Linked DNA regions of Homo sapiens: region 2 is linked to region 1. A link means that fine-mapping ties the variant in region 1 to the expression of a gene that starts in the linked region. Tissue or cell type: whole blood. Region 1 holds a variant in brackets; the other region holds the start of a gene. All regions are shown on one strand. Distances are from middle to middle.

Region 1 (8,187 bases):
TCCTGTGTATTATATCCTCTAGCCACCAAGTCCTTCACTAGCAACTATTTACATCTGCAGCCTGGCGTGATGATGCCGTGGGGAAATGAGGGACAGAGCAGAGCTGGCCATGGGGGCTATATTAGTCCATTTTCTGCTGCTATAAGAGAATACTGCAGAGTAGGTAATTTAAAAAGAAAAAAAAATGTTGATTTGACTCATGGTTCTAGAGGCTGGAAAGTCCAAGAACATGGCACTGGCATCTGGCAAGGGTCACCCCATGACAGAGGGGCAGAAGGAATATGAGCGTGCAAGACACGGATTAAATCAAGCTGAACTCATTGTTTAATGAAAACCCCACTTCTGTGATAACTAACCCATTAATAACAGCATTAATCCATTCATGAGCGCGGAGCCCTTATGGCCTAATCACTTCTTAAAGGTCCTACCTCTTAATACTATCACAATGGCAATTGAATTTCAACATGAGTTTTAGAGGAGACATTCAGACCATACATAGTAGGATCATAGCTTGCTCCATGTCACCCTGCTATGAAGCCAGCAGCAAAGTCAGGGCAAGCCAAGGATGGAAGGAGCCCATGATACAGAGGAGAGTGGCCTGACTCATGAACAGGCATTTGTATATAAATATAGATATGTCTCACAAATACAGCAGAGGAAGGAACCCTTGCTGGAGAAAGAGGTGAGCACTCTGTAAGGTTAATGGGAATTTATTTCCTTTTTTTTTTTTTTTCCTGAGCAGCCCCTCTTTTAGGGAGGAAGTCTATTACTCCAAACTCCTGATGGCAGAGTTAAAGCCTCACAGGTCTGAACAGATATTCCCCTGGGATATTCAGCTTTTGGGGAACAGCCAGCTCAACAGTGAACCTCTAATCTCATGGCAAATTATTTAAATCTGAGAATCCATTCAAGTCTTATTTTGAGTACCCTAGTCCATCCAATATCTTTTAATAATTTTGTATCTCAAAAAAAGAAGGGAATTGTCCTTACGTAAAAGTTGGTATGTAAACAAAAGGTTATAAACAGGTTGGTATGTAAACAAGTGGTTTTCTGTAAACAAGTGGTTATTTATATCCTATTAAGTACTATATACATCAACAGTATATAAATAATAGTCCCTGGCCAAGGCAAAGACATAATCTATTGCGTCTTCTGCTGGAAAAGAGAATTGCTCTTACCAGAATAAAGGACTGTGCTCCAAAGGTGAATTAATGTTTTCATCTCTATAGACTAAAAACTTGTCAATAACTTCCAAAAGCAAAAAACTCCTTAATGTCCTTTCTCTCCGTGGTGCCCAATTACTTGCACCTGCACACGGCATGCACTCATTGTTGGTGCTGCCAGTGTTCCAATCCCTTCTACTGAACCCTGCAATGCTCTCAGAGCCTGCTGCTCTTCTTTAGTTCACTTGGCAGTTAATATGATGTTGAAAACACCACCATTCATTAAGAGTGGAGGGGTACAGCACCATTGCTTTCAATTCAGATGGTCTGTGGTAGAGACTACAAGTGGTCACCTATTTCCATTCTTTCACTTTTGTGCACAGCACCAAAATCCCCAATATTTTTTAAGGCACGTGGCCATCAAGGATACAGTGTGACTGTCTGTGCTTCCCTTGCAGTTAGATGTGGGCATAAGATGACATCCTGGACAATGGATTGTGAACGAATGTGATGAGGCCATCTGCCAGGTTGTGTCCATGAGAGGAAGGTGTACACCCCTTTTGCCCTTTCTCCTTTCATAGAAGGAGGACAAGTTGCGGAAGAAGCCAATCTTCTAGGGAATCCAAGCAACCCAATCAAGGAAATCTGGATTTCTGACACCAGTACTCAGTGGCAGAAGTTCCCAAACACTCTCGTTTCATAGTATAGTGTCGCCATAATTTTTTCATATTGACTCTAGGCCAAAAGAATGCCTAAAAATTCTGTTTCTAGGCAGTTGTATCTAAGCAATTTGCTATGTCCTAACAACTTAGAAGTCATTTGAAAAAAAAATAATTCAAATACATTGAAAGAAAAAATACTGTTATTTCTATTCTTTTTTTTTTTTTTTTTTTTTTTTTTTTTTTTTTTTTTTGAGACGGAGTCTCTCACTTTCACCCAGGCTGGAGTGCAGTGGCGTGATCTCAGCTCACTGCAAGCTCTGCCTCCCAGGTTCACACCATTCTCCTGCCTCAGCCTCCCGAGCAGCTGGGACCACAGGCACCCACCACCACGCCTAACTAATTTTTTGTATTTTTAGTAGAGATGGGGTTTCACCATGTTAGCCAGGATGGTCTCGATCTCCTGACCTCATGATCCACCCACCTCAGCCTCCCAAAGTGCTGGGATTACAGGCGTGAGCCACCGCACCCAGCTCTTATTTCTGTTCTTAAATAACCACAATCACTTACTAGTGGGATGCGTGCACCTGTTGAGCACTGTACACCTTCTCAAACCTTGGGATCACATTGGGTAACAGTACTGTCATTTACTTGCATTTTATCAGACCAGCCACTGAAAACCCAGCTTTGCAAAGGTATGATATCATCAAAGAGAATGTAACAAGATCTGAGGTTTGAACTCTGAACTACCTCAAGCTAGTAATATGACAAATGTCAAGGTATCACTGAATTTTCTTTGAATAAGAAAAATTTACCATGGTATCCTGTGGTGCCTGGGTGCATAGTTTGGGAACCATGTCTGTGGAGCAACTATACTAGCTCTGGACTGTTTATATAAGAGAAAAATAAACTTCTATTGTCTTTAAACCACTATGATTTCAGAGCTTTAAGAGCACACTAATCTTATCTTATAGAAGGTTGAAACTATTAAGACAAAAGTGAAAATATGACTAGGCAGTTTAACCTGAAAGTTGCACATATACATTGACACCCCCAACCCCCTGCCCTGCGGTCACCTTCTGTTCCCCCAGGCCAGTCCTCTAAGTTGCATCCCTTTTCCTCTCATTTCTTTCCTTCTGCCTAGTAATTTGTTCCATTTCACTAGCTGCCGGCTCTCAGGGCAGCTGCCCTCCATGATCCCTGTGGCCTTTCCCTTCCAGAGACCCCTGTGTCTCTGCCCAAGCTGTGCCTTGTTGAAGGAGCTATATTTGCTTGTGTGGCAAACCCTGAGGCACGAGGGCCAGCTTTTCTCCCCTCACCACACATATGCCTTCTTAACTTAAGGGAAAAAATTCCATTCCCCTTCAGGGAACATTAAAGAAGTGGGGTAAAAAGCAAAGTTTTGGTTGCACGATAGGTTGAGTCCTCTAAACCACTTAAGAGGTATATTTCAAAATGAAGAAAGAATTTGAAGTACAAAGAATTAGTCAGGTATGAAAATCATTTAACCTTCGGCAAGCACCTAAAGCCAAACTCTATGGGGGTGCCCAACAGGCCGTGAGCTTGGAAGAGAAGTCGTTTCCTTCCCAAAGCTGACCTTTGAAAGTGAAGATGCTGCTCTAATATTACTTCTACTGGCCAGAGGGGGAAATGCCCAGTCAATGGATTCTGCAAAACTAGAGGAAACCAGGGCCCTGTGATATTGATTCTCTTCTAACTCCTACAGAGAAGTTTTCTCTCCACGTCTTTGTTTGAGACAGAGTCTTGCTCTCTCAACTAAGCTGGAATGCAGTGGCGAGATCATTCTCCCACCTCAGCCTCCCGAGTAGCTGGGACTACAGGCACACACAACCATGACCAGCTAATTTTTAAAATTCTTTGTGGAGATGTGCATTTACTATGTTGCTCAGGCTGGTCTCAAACTCCTAGCCTCAAGCCATCCTCCTGTCTGGACCTCCCACAGTGCTGGTATTATAGGCGTGAGCCACTGCACCCAGCCCTCTCCAAGTCTTAAGGCAAACTGTAGCCACTTTCCTCTTGAGGTAAAGTAGACATGGCCTCTTCCAGTTGACTTCTTCCAATATGTTTCAGTAGTTAGAAATTCAAATGAGATAGCAATCCATTCCCTCTGATGCTGGCTAGTAAGGCCAAAAGGAGTATTTCCAATGCTGTCAGATGTGTCAGCTTCTGTGAGGAGTTGAGTCCAGCAGAGGGTGTTTGATTTATGTAGTTCTAGACGGGGGGCATTTCTAGTAACTGAAATAGTTGAGAATCCTACTCTGAATCACTTCCCTAAGCCCCTTTTGTTTTAGTGCCATTCTTTGTTAAAGCCTAAGTCAGATTATTGGTTTCTTTTGAGCAGAAACTGCAACAGATAAGGCCTGTCTCCCTAAGCCAGATCCATGTGATCATTGCTTTTGATCTGACAGCTACTGGCAGGAGTGTAGCTAGTGCAGGTGATGTGGATTTCGCCCTGGTCAGTGACCCCCTACTTATACCTGACTAGCTCTCCCCAACCCCAACCCCAATCTTTGGTCTTTATTCCAAAAATGCAAACCTATTTAGATATCCAACTAAGCAGACATTAAATGGGAAGGAAAATACATTTTTGAAAAAAAGTATGATGACATGTTTCAAACCCAAGCCCTTTTTTCTCAGACAGTCCCCTGCTTCGGCATCCTGTCCACACGGCTAGTGTGTAATCCGTTGCTTGCTTACTGGTCTCCCTTCCTCCCTAGATCCTGAGCTCCATGAGGGCAGGAAGCATGGCATGGTTATCTCCTGCCTGACGCTCGCCACTTGGTGCATGATGAGTAAATGTTCATTTGATATGAATTCTCCCCTCACTGGCATGGCTTAGTGAAAGCTAAAGAAACAGAGTAAAGTAAGTGAAGTTCAGCTCATCCTCCCCATCCCCCCTCACT[T/C]CTCCTTTTTTCTTCCTTCCCCTGATGTCCTCATCTCTCTCCCTGTCTCAGAAGCACTGTCAGCTTCCATAAATTACAGGAATAAACACCTAAAGGTACCACTCTTGACCACATTCTGAGATTTGACCCAGACCTTGCTTTTTTGTTTTTTGGGTTTTTTTTTTGTTTTGTTTTGTTTTTTTGAGACACGCTTTTGTTCTGTCAGCCAGGCTAGAGTGCAGTGGTGTGATCATAGTTCATTACAGCCTCAACCTCCTGGGTTCAAGCAATCTTCCCACCTCAGCCCCCAGAGTAGCTGGGACTACAGGCCTGCTGTACATCTCCTGGCTAATTTTTAAATTGTATTATTACTTTTTGTAGCAATGGGGTCTTGCTATATTGCCCAGGCTGGTCTCGAACTCCTTGGCCCAAACAATCCTCCTGCCTTGGCCTCCCAAAGTGCTGGGATTACAGGTGTGAGCCACCATGCTCAGCCTGTCTTGGACCTTTGGCTGCAAAGTGCTGAGCACAGAGCCATGCAAGGGAAGGTGGGCAGGAAAGCTTGCACCATTTGTTGGTGGCACTGTGAGCACTCAAAATGATGTCCCCCTTTGACTACTGTGGTAGATGTCACTAATGTTCTCCTTTACCTCCTAGTAGAAAGAGAAATATCTTTTCTGCCCTTTCGAAGTTAGGTGTAACCATGTGACTTGCATTGGCATAAGAATTAAGAGCTTCCACACTTTGCCCCAGTCACAGTTGTCAGAGCAGTGCATACAAATGTGTTTTTAGACAGAGGTGCCACAAGAGCAAAGAATCCTGGATCATTGAGCTGTCACCTGAGGAGAGTCACCCTGACCCCCAATGAGCTTTGCATGTGCAAGAAATAAATATTTGTTGTTTTAAGCCACTACGAGTTTTGGAGATTGTTTGTTGCTAACAAATATCTTGGCCTATCCTGGCTGATATAACTACCTTCTGTACTTTGCTTACTCTGTCCATATTTCAATTGTTTATTAATCATAAGGTGCCCTGTGAAAGCAAAAGTCAGGCTAGTGGCTCTTATGGTCTTTAACAAATGTGATGGCAACATATCACTTTCAAAATTGTTCAAAAGGCTTCACTTGGGAAATGTGCCAGAGGGGAGCTATTGCTTTTCTTCATCTGCCCCTTTACTATACCCTCGCCTCCCACTTCCTTCCCACACATGGTGACCTGGGACACTTCATGTGAGATCTGCCGAATTTGGCCTCCACAACTCCAGAATCAACCTTCCCTTCTTTTCTTCATCTCACCTGAGCTGCCTCCACCTCACGACACTCTTCTCAGATGGGTGTTACAGAGGTGCCAGGAATTCTTCTAGAAGTAACTAACTCCTAGCACTTGTGAAATCAAAGCCCATGGACAACAAATTGCTCTCCATTTGTGGACACATGGCTTCCCTGAATGTGCAAGACAGATCTAATTCTCAATGGTTGCCTGGCACTGGTTAGCTCTGGACCCACGGACACTTTCACTGGTAAAATTACTGAGATGATGATCGTGAAGCTTAATGAACAAAACATGACTAAATTAACTTGTGGTCAGTCAACAATTCAATCCGAGGACACTGACACTGTCTCCCACAATTGGCTTGACTGTAACAGGGCAATGCATGAATAACATAGGGAGACTGAGCTTTGCCTTTGGATAAATGTTCTACACTTGCCAACATAGGAGAGCAGTGGATTTTCAATGTAAGATGATAATGACGTGGGTTTGTTCTCATTTCTGCCTCTTGCTGAGTCCTTACCCTAGAAAAATCACAATTCTGTTTTTGTTTTTGAGATGGAGTCTCACTCTGTCATCTAGGCTGGAGTGCAGTGGAGCAATCTCAGCTCACTGCAACCTCCACCTCCCAGGTTCAAGCGATTCTCATGCCTCAGCCTCCCAAGTAGCTGGGATTATAGGCGTGTGCCACCACACCTTGCTAATTTTTGTATTTTTAGTAGAGACCGGGTTTCATCATGTTGGCCAGGCTGGTCTCAAACCCCTGACCTCATGTGATCCACACGCCTCAGCCTCCCAAAGTACTGGGATTACAGGCATGAGCCACTATGCCTGGCCCCACAAATATATTATTGATAGTCGGCTGCTCTATGAAAAAAATTCTAAGGGATCTACCTTCAGGAATATAGGTAAGTGAAAGTTGCAATTTTCTCTGGAAGGAATTTTAATTGTAGACATTTTAATTTACATTAAATCATTAATATATTTTCCTGTAACTCACTGTATAAGAAATCTTTCCTTCAGAACCTAATGGGGCTCAAAAGTAAAAATAAAAGTAAAAAGTCTTTCTTGACTGATCCTGGAGATTGGAGTGGGGAGAAACTACAGCAAGTTAAGAATAGAGTCTGGGCCTTAATAAATTGACAGATATACCATGTTCATAGATTGGAAGATTGAAGATTGAATATTGTTAAGACATTAATTATCCACAAAATGATCTATAGATCCAACTCATTACCTGTCAAAATCTCAGCAGTATTTTTTGTAGAAATTGATGATCATGTTCTAAAGTGTATATGAAAATACAAAGAACCTGGAAGAGCCAAAACAAATTTGAGAAAGATGAACGAACTTGGAACACTTATATGACCCGATTTCTAGACTTAAAGCTACAGTAATCCACAGAGTGTGGTGTTGGTGAAAGGATAGACATATAGACTACTGAAAAAACTATTCTTAACCTGGGCCCATTCATATATTGCTAACTGATTTTGACAGAGGTGCTAAGGTAATTCCATGGGGAAGGTATAGTCCTCTCAACAAATGGTGTAGAAACAATTGGATATCTACATAGGAAAAAAATGAATTTCAGTCTTCATCTATTATGGAAAACTCAACTTGAAATGGATCATAGACCTAATGATAAGAGTTAAAACTATAAAACTTAAAGAAAAGATAAGAAATCCTTGTGATCTTGGGTAGACAAACATTTCCTAGAGAGGCAACAGAGGCATGAGCTATAAAACAGATAATTGCCATAAAAGAGCCATAAAAATAAATGATAAGTAAATTGTTTCATGTTCATACAAAGCAACCCTACTCAGCATTACCAAGGAATAAACTGCTGATACATGCAACAATATGGTAATCTCAAAAGCACAATACTAAGTGAAAGATGCCAAATGCAAAAGATTACAGGCTATATTATTTCATTTGTATGAAATTTTAGAAAAAGCAAAACTTTAGTGTTAGAAAGCAGATCAGTCTTTGCATGGAGCCAGGGCAAGTGTCTAACTGCAAAGGGACATAAGGAAACTTTTGGAAAATATGCCTTGTGGTGCTGATTGTGTGACCATATGCATTTGTCAAAACTCATGAGACTGTACCCTTATGTGCAGAAAAGAGTTAACACAGCCAATCTGAGGTTGCTATTCTTAGAAAGGCCTGCTTGGAAGGTTGGCTCTTGGATGGTGT
Region 2 (8,187 bases), 73 kb before region 1:
TGGGACTACAGGTGTGTGCCACCATGCATGGCTAATTTTTTTGTATTTTTAGTAGAGGCAGGGTTTTGCCATGTTGGCCAGGCTGTTCTCGAACTCTTGACCTCAAGTGATTCACTCACCTTGGCCTCCCAAAGTGCTGGGAGTGCAGGCTTGAGCCAGGCTTTCTATTAAGCCTAGCTACAAACCTTCTAGTAAATGGCTGTTGCTCTTCATTTTACTTTATTTATAATATATAAAATATATAAAGTATAAAACAATATTACATATACGTGTGTGCATATGTGTGTGTACACACATATACACACGCATGTGTGTGTACACATATATACACGCATATGTATAAAATGTATACCTATATAATTTTTATTTATATATAAATTTATATATAATATATATTTATATATAATATATAAATTTATATATTATATATTTATATATAATATATAAATTTATATATATTATATATTTTTATATAATATATAAATTTATATATAATATATATTTATATATAATATATAAACTTTTATATTATATAAATTTATATAATATATAAATATATAATATATAAATATATATGATATATATAAATTTATATAATATATAAATATATAATATATAAATATATATGATATATATAAATTTATATAATATATAAATATATATGATATATATAAATTTATATAATATATAAATATATATGATATATATAAATTTATATAATATATAAATATATATGATATATATAAATTTATATAATATATAAATATATATGATATATATAAATTTATATAATATATAAATATATATGATATATATAAATTTATATAATATATAAATATATATGATATATATAAATTTATATAATATATAAATATATATGATATATATAAATTTATATAATATATAAATATATATGATATATATAAATTTATATAATATATAAATATATATGATATATATATTTATATAATATATAAATATATATATCATATGTATAAATTTATATATTATATAAATATATATGATATATATAAATTTATATATTATATAGAAATTTTAATATAGTATATATAAATTTTTATATATTATATATAAAATATATATAATATATAATATATAAATAATAAAAAATTGTATATATAAATTTTTATATACATAAAACATATATATGTAGGTGTGAGCCACTGTGCTGGGCCTGGATGCTGTTTAATAATAGTAGTAGTTTTGAGGCGCCAGCAGAGTGCAGACCTGTGACACAGTGAACCGAAGTTCTCAGGACAGCTGAGTAGCTGCTGGGTCATTCCTCAGTCACCTGACCTCAGCAGACGACCCTCTCTGCAGTTGGCTGTCCTGATCTGGGATAGTGGGGATGGCAATATCTGCTCCATGCATGGATGAGTTGGTGTGAAAATACGGCAGGAAATAACACAGGAAAGGTGTAAGTGCATCTAAAATCATATGTACATATTTGTGTAATGCTTGATGCATTACATGAGTGTTTTCAAGTAAAATATAGTGTTAATTTTAATAATGACCCACTCTGTAATAGTGAAATTTCTAACAATCTGAAAATTTGCAGTGGTGTTCTGGGTGGTTGTGTTACCTTTAACGTTGTTGATTTAAAGAGGAGTGTTACTTAGCTGCCTTAGAAACAGTTACAGCTGGGTGGCAGAGGGCACCAGGCAAGCTGACCCAGACACAATAAGAGCTACTGGAGAGAGCTGACTTCATCTAGGGAGGATGTAAGTGGACATTCTTTCATTCATCTAACAAATACTAACTGGTTGCCTAACATGTCTGTTTTGTTCATTGCTATATCCTCAGTGCTCAGAAAACCTCATTGCCCTGAAAAGGTTTATGTTGTAATAGGGGAGGCCGTTAATGTATAGACGTGTTTATCTTAGGTCATAGTTGCTACAAAGAAAAGTGAGACTGTGGGATGGACAGGGGATGGGAGGGAGGGAGGGAGATTATATTAGCATAATTAGTACCAGCTGCCTCAGCAATCTCTGAAATTTCAGTGGCTTAGTCGGACAAAGGATTTTTCTCTCACAAAGTATGATTGGGGTCGGTGACTCAGGGACCCAGGCTCCCTCTGTCTTCCGGTATCTCCAAGGAAGGAGAAGAAAGGAGGGATGGAAAGCCCCATGGTTCTGACCGAATGAAGCGATGATGTGGCATGGTGGATCTCCCGGGGAAGAGGGCTCCAGGGAGAGAGAAAAGCGAAGGCAAAAACTTCAGCAAGAAACGTGCTTGACTTGTCCCAAAAATAGCAAAGCAACCACTGTGGCTTCTTTCAGTGGAAAAGGGGGCTGGAAAGATAGCCAAGGGCCAGGCTATCTAAGGCCTCTCAGGCCAAGGGAGGAAGTAAGAAAATGCAATTGTTTGGGGTCATTTAGTGTCCCCTAAAAACTTTACAGAAGCATATGGGTGGTTATAATGATTGTGTAAACTAAACTGTGAATAATATGCTCCATTTTCTAGAGAAATCTTTACAAAATGTGTTACTGTATCTATTTCCCTGAGTGAACAGTTATAGGTTGTTAATACTGGAGCACAATTTTCTACATATCTAAGACCCTCTAGAGGTAGGGGTTTTCCTGCCACTAGTGGCCATAGGGCCAAACATCATGACAGCCTGTCCTCATCCTTCTGGAAGCCTGATGCGCGGCAAGCACAGAGGCCTCCCACTGGACTCCTACAAAGTAAGCACCTGCAGACGCCCATGCCCCAGTGCTACAAACAACCTTGGACACCCAATAATTCCTCAACCACCATTTCTACAGAGTAGCTCAACCAGTCTGTAAAAAATCATCACCTTAAACTCCTGGAATTTTCACACCTGAAATAAGCCCAAAGTTACTGTACTTAACTCTAATCTAAAAAGTAACTACTAAACGAACAGAAGGGGCGAAACTAAATTTATTTATCTTACATATTCTAGGTTAGCTTTTCAGAAGTAAAATGAGTCATATTCTAGAGGTTTAGTTAATGTGGACTTCATGTTTCTGACCACATGAAATGTTGGCATTGAAATTCAATGATCCCTGTTGCTTACTGTGAGAATAGTCAAAACCCAGAATTTTCAGCTAAAAATGTAATTTAGAATATGCTTACTGAATTGAATTAAGGTTTTGCATTAGGATAAACACTGTGGGAGTGATTCTGGTATAGTGGGTTTGTGTTTTTGTGCAAGATGCTTACAATACCACAGCCCTTAGAATAATTGTACACTCTTCTGGCCCGTTTCCCAGGTTTCCTTGAAAAGGGTCAGAGGACAGGCTGAAATTAATGACACATGAATGCAGAACCTCAATTAGAAGTGTCTTCAAAGGAATAATTAGGCTAGACTTAATAAGAGGGGATTAAGAGAAGAAAAAGCTTTGGGCAAATTATACACTGAAGGAAAGGAAGATAGGAAACAAGGCAACGATAGATTGGAGCTGATTATTTCAGGAAGTGATTTTTGTTCTATTTATCTTAAAAATAATATAAATATAGTGAGACATAGAGACAACAGATGGATGGATGGTCACTGACCTCTTACTAGGAGTGGCAATGTGAACATTGGGACGCTTCCTGGTGCATGTACCCTGCAATTGTTAGTTTAGTACCCCTATTCCCTTTGTGAAAGAGGCCAGGGATTTTGCTTCCCCCAAATAACAGTAACAGCAGCAAAAGCAGCAACAAACCCTTCAAATCTGCTTACCCTGCCAGATATTGTTTCACTTTCCTCATCTGTAAAATAGGGATTACTTTATGATGGAATCCCCACAACAACCCCCGGAGGTAGGTACGATATAAGTGCCTTGTTCCAGGTCATACAGCTAGGTAGTGTCAGAACACAGATTGAAATTCAGAAGCCTGGCTCCGAAGTTTGAGCTCTCATTCACCGCACTACATATATCTATGGGAGGATAGGCGACACATGCATGTAATAAATGTGTGAGCATTTATTGTACTGGAAACTCTCCAGCTCCTCCCTCTCTACATGATCCTTTGCTTCTAATTTTGTCAATCACAGCACCTTCCCTGGCCCTTACTTTGTTCTTGCCAATCTCCTCTCCTTGAGCAGAAGAGGGAAGGGAGCCTGCTCTGTAGGTGAACAGCTCCTCCGCAGAGGCATCCTGTTTTCTTAGTGCAATCACTAATTCGCATTGCAAAATGCTTTATTACATGACTGGGTTGCCATTCTAGGAGCATTCACTGAGCGCTCAGAGTGGGAACGTTTATCAGGCATGCAAATGCTAACTTACTTTCTAGAGAATGTTTAACTTAAAAGCCTAAAGAAATCTCAGATAATTCACTTCGGAGTAGAAACCTCCTTCAGCCGCGCTCACTACGGCGCCCGGCTTCGCGGCACCGGCCACTAGAGGGCAGTGGCCGCCGCAAAGCCGACGCGGGCGGTGGGCTCGGCGGCTCGGCCATCGCTTGCTCTCGCCTGGCAAGGGGCTCTCGGCCGTGGATTAGCGCAGCTGGAGACGTGGGAGGCCGCGGGCCCCGCCCCCGACCGGCGGCGGCTGCGGCGGCCCAGCGCGGCAGTCGGCGCTGCGAAGTGGAGGCGCTGCGAGCGGAGCCGCGCGGAGGGCGCGACCGGCTGGTCCGGGCAGCGTGGGTTTGCCGCCTTCGGGGCTCCAGTCCGCGCGCCAGGGCTCGAGCAGTACCGCGGGCCCCTCAGGTGGGCCTCGGCTCGGGACGCCGGGAGTCGGGACCGCCAGTCGGGGCGCCGGGACCATGGCGCTGCGCGCCCGGGCGCTGTACGACTTCAGGTCGGAGAACCCAGGAGAGATCTCGCTGCGAGAGCACGAGGTGCTGAGCCTGTGCAGCGAGCAGGACATCGAGGGCTGGCTCGAGGGGGTCAACAGCCGCGGCGACCGCGGCCTCTTCCCGGCCTCCTATGTGCAGGTGATCCGCGCCCCCGAGCCTGGCCCGGCGGGAGACGGCGGCCCGGGCGCCCCGGCCCGCTACGCCAATGTGCCCCCCGGGGGCTTCGAGCCCCTGCCTGTCGCGCCCCCCGCCTCCTTCAAGCCGCCGCCTGACGCCTTCCAGGCGCTGCTGCAGCCACAGCAGGCGCCGCCTCCGAGCACCTTCCAGCCGCCCGGCGCGGGCTTCCCGTACGGCGGGGGCGCCCTGCAGCCGTCGCCTCAGCAGCTCTACGGCGGCTACCAGGCCAGCCAAGGCAGCGATGATGACTGGGACGACGAGTGGGACGACAGCTCCACGGTGGCGGACGAGCCGGGCGCTCTGGGCAGCGGAGCATACCCGGACCTCGACGGCTCGTCTTCGGCGGGTGTGGGCGCAGCCGGCCGCTACCGCCTGTCCACGCGCTCCGACCTGTCCCTGGGTTCCCGCGGCGGCTCGGTCCCCCCGCAGCACCACCCGTCGGGGCCCAAGAGCTCGGCCACCGTGAGCCGCAACCTCAATCGCTTCTCCACCTTCGTCAAGTCCGGCGGGGAGGCCTTCGTGCTGGGGGAGGCGTCAGGCTTCGTGAAGGACGGGGACAAGCTGTGCGTGGTGCTGGGGCCCTATGGCCCCGAGTGGCAGGAGAACCCCTACCCGTTCCAGTGCACCATCGACGACCCCACCAAGCAGACCAAGTTCAAGGGCATGAAGAGCTACATCTCCTACAAGCTGGTGCCCACGCACACGCAGGTGCCGGTGCATCGGCGCTACAAGCACTTCGACTGGCTGTACGCGCGCCTGGCGGAGAAGTTCCCGGTCATCTCCGTGCCCCACCTGCCCGAGAAGCAGGCCACCGGCCGCTTCGAGGAGGACTTCATCTCTAAGCGCAGGAAGGGCCTGATCTGGTGGATGAACCACATGGCCAGCCACCCAGTGCTGGCGCAGTGCGACGTCTTCCAGCACTTCCTGACGTGCCCCAGCAGCACCGACGAGAAAGCCTGGAAGCAGGGCAAGAGGAAGGCCGAGAAGGACGAGATGGTGGGCGCCAACTTCTTCCTGACCCTTAGCACGCCCCCCGCCGCTGCCCTTGACCTGCAGGAGGTGGAGAGCAAGATCGACGGCTTCAAGTGCTTCACCAAGAAGATGGACGACAGCGCGCTGCAGCTCAACCACACGGCCAACGAGTTCGCGCGCAAGCAGGTGACCGGCTTCAAAAAGGAGTATCAGAAGGTGGGCCAGTCCTTCCGCGGCCTCAGCCAGGCCTTTGAGCTGGACCAGCAGGCCTTCTCGGTGGGCCTGAACCAGGCTATCGCCTTCACCGGAGATGCCTATGACGCCATTGGCGAGCTCTTCGCGGAGCAGCCCAGGCAGGACCTGGATCCCGTCATGGACCTATTAGCGCTGTATCAGGGGCATCTGGCTAACTTCCCGGACATCATCCACGTTCAGAAAGGTAAAGCCTGGCCCTTAGAGCAGGTGATATGGAGTGTATTGTGCAGGCTGAAAGGGGCGACTTTGACAGCAGTACCACTGTGGGTTTCAGAATCATATTCTACAGGTGAGGAAGCGAGCAGAGACGTGGACGCCTGGGTCTTTTCCCTAGAGTGTAAGTTGGATTGCTCGACAGGCAGCTTCCTCCTCGAGTATCTTGCATTAGGGAATGAGTACTCTTTCTCGAAGGTTCAAAGAGTACCTTTGATGACAGTGCTATCATTTTAGAGTTTGAATAGTTGAGTAATGAGCTGCTCAAATCTGTAATCTTGAGACGAGGGTAGAATTAGAAGGGGACCTAAACCATGTTAGGTATCTGTTTGAACACTGCACTGTCACTTAGTGGTGAGTTTCAAAAAGTGAGGAAATAATGGAGAAGAACGGATGTCTGTAAATAGAAATCTGCTTTCACCCTTCCACACCTCTCAATCTCTGCTTTGGTAGAGGAATTAAGATCAATTCTCTGAGTTTAAGAAATTCCTGCAAAGAATTCTTGCCTGCAACCTTTACGAAGTGAAGTAATTTCAGGAAAAGCGTACTCATTTTGAGTTTGAAATCTATTAATGTACTGAAATTGAGAACGTTGTTTAGGAAAATTGTTTAGGGAAACTACATAGAATGAATATAATCTGAGTATTGGATCTGAGAGCAGCGTTGCTGGTATCCCAGTGAGTTAGCTGTCCAACTATCAGAGTTCATGAGTTATTAATAGTTGTTAGTGTCTCTGACCTTTGCTAAAGCACCAGAATTTGCAAATTAAAAAAATATATAGCAGTAGTGCTTGTCTTAACATTTCTTACTAATGTGCATTCTCATATAATGCCTTGATTGAGAGAATGGGGAGGTGTGGGAGTTAGGGAGGCAGTCTTGCCTGTGAAAGTCCAGTGTAGGGGCGGCTGGGCAGGGAAACCTACTCCTGAGCAGGGAAACCTACTGTCCCTGTTTCCTCAGCGGGTCTGGCCTTTACTGGTGAAGTGCTCACTGCCTTTCTGGTGGGCCAGTCCGTTTATGAGCAACCCTGATCTCTGGCATGTCTTTTCTTGTATTGAACTGAAGTTTGCCTCCCTTGATTGTCTTTCTGTTCCCTGGGACCGCCTTCAGACATTTGGAGACAGCAGTCTCGCTTCCTTCCTCTCTGCTTCTCTCCTTCCCCTTCCAAATGCGTGACTGGTCTTCTGACTCCTATGGGGGAAGGGGCTTGCTGGGAGAATGATCAAACGTTTTCAGTCTTGTTGCTGCCGCTGAAAGGGAGTACCCTGGACATCAGTACTAATTTTAGTAGACAGTAGTAACTTTCTTGGCAATTTGCGATTTGTAAATGCAGTCTAATATTGAATTCGTTTTTTGTGCAATCATATTGCTGTTGGCCTGTATTAAACCTGTATTTACATTACCTATGCCTTTTTTTAAAACATAAATTGTTATGAATCTTTGACTTTTTTGACTGGTGTTGGTGGAACTGCCTTTGTGAGCCTTTAATGGAGGGATTTAGCATTTAAATTCCATTGTGTTACATCATTCTGGACCTATGCTGGCTGCCCTTTTACACATTTCTGTGAGTTTGTGCAAATTACTGGTGAACAGTTGAAAGGATGGAACCAAGTACAGACACTTGGACATGTGTGCTGGGCCGCTGGTGTCTGTCTACTTTAGGTTGGCATCAGTTCATTCACTGTCAATCACACCATGCACTCAGGCTTTGTCAAATGGCCTGCTTTTGAAATTATATATTAGAAAAGGTATGGTGTGTGTTCTAATATCTATTTTGAGTTTACAGCAATGGTCTACTTAGTC

Evidence for each region. PIP is the estimated chance that this variant, and not a neighbour inherited with it, causes the effect.
Region 2: it holds the start of SNX18, and the variant in region 1 is fine-mapped to the expression of SNX18 in whole blood (TOPMed, PIP above 0.99).

The regions. Positions count from the first base shown.
Region 1 is chr5:54,586,270-54,594,456 of GRCh38, forward strand. It overlaps a transcript of SNX18 not described here. Among named protein-coding and RNA genes, the nearest start is that of SNX18, 73 kb to the left of the region's middle. The variant T/C (reference allele first, on the strand shown) is at 4,747.
Region 2 is chr5:54,513,219-54,521,405 of GRCh38, forward strand. It overlaps SNX18 (sorting nexin 18), which reads left to right and starts at 4,541. Exons shown (of 2, transcript NM_001102575.2): 1 at 4,541-6,355. The coding sequence starts at 4,735. RefSeq lists silencers at 4,295-4,536, 4,417-4,976 and an enhancer at 5,449-6,393.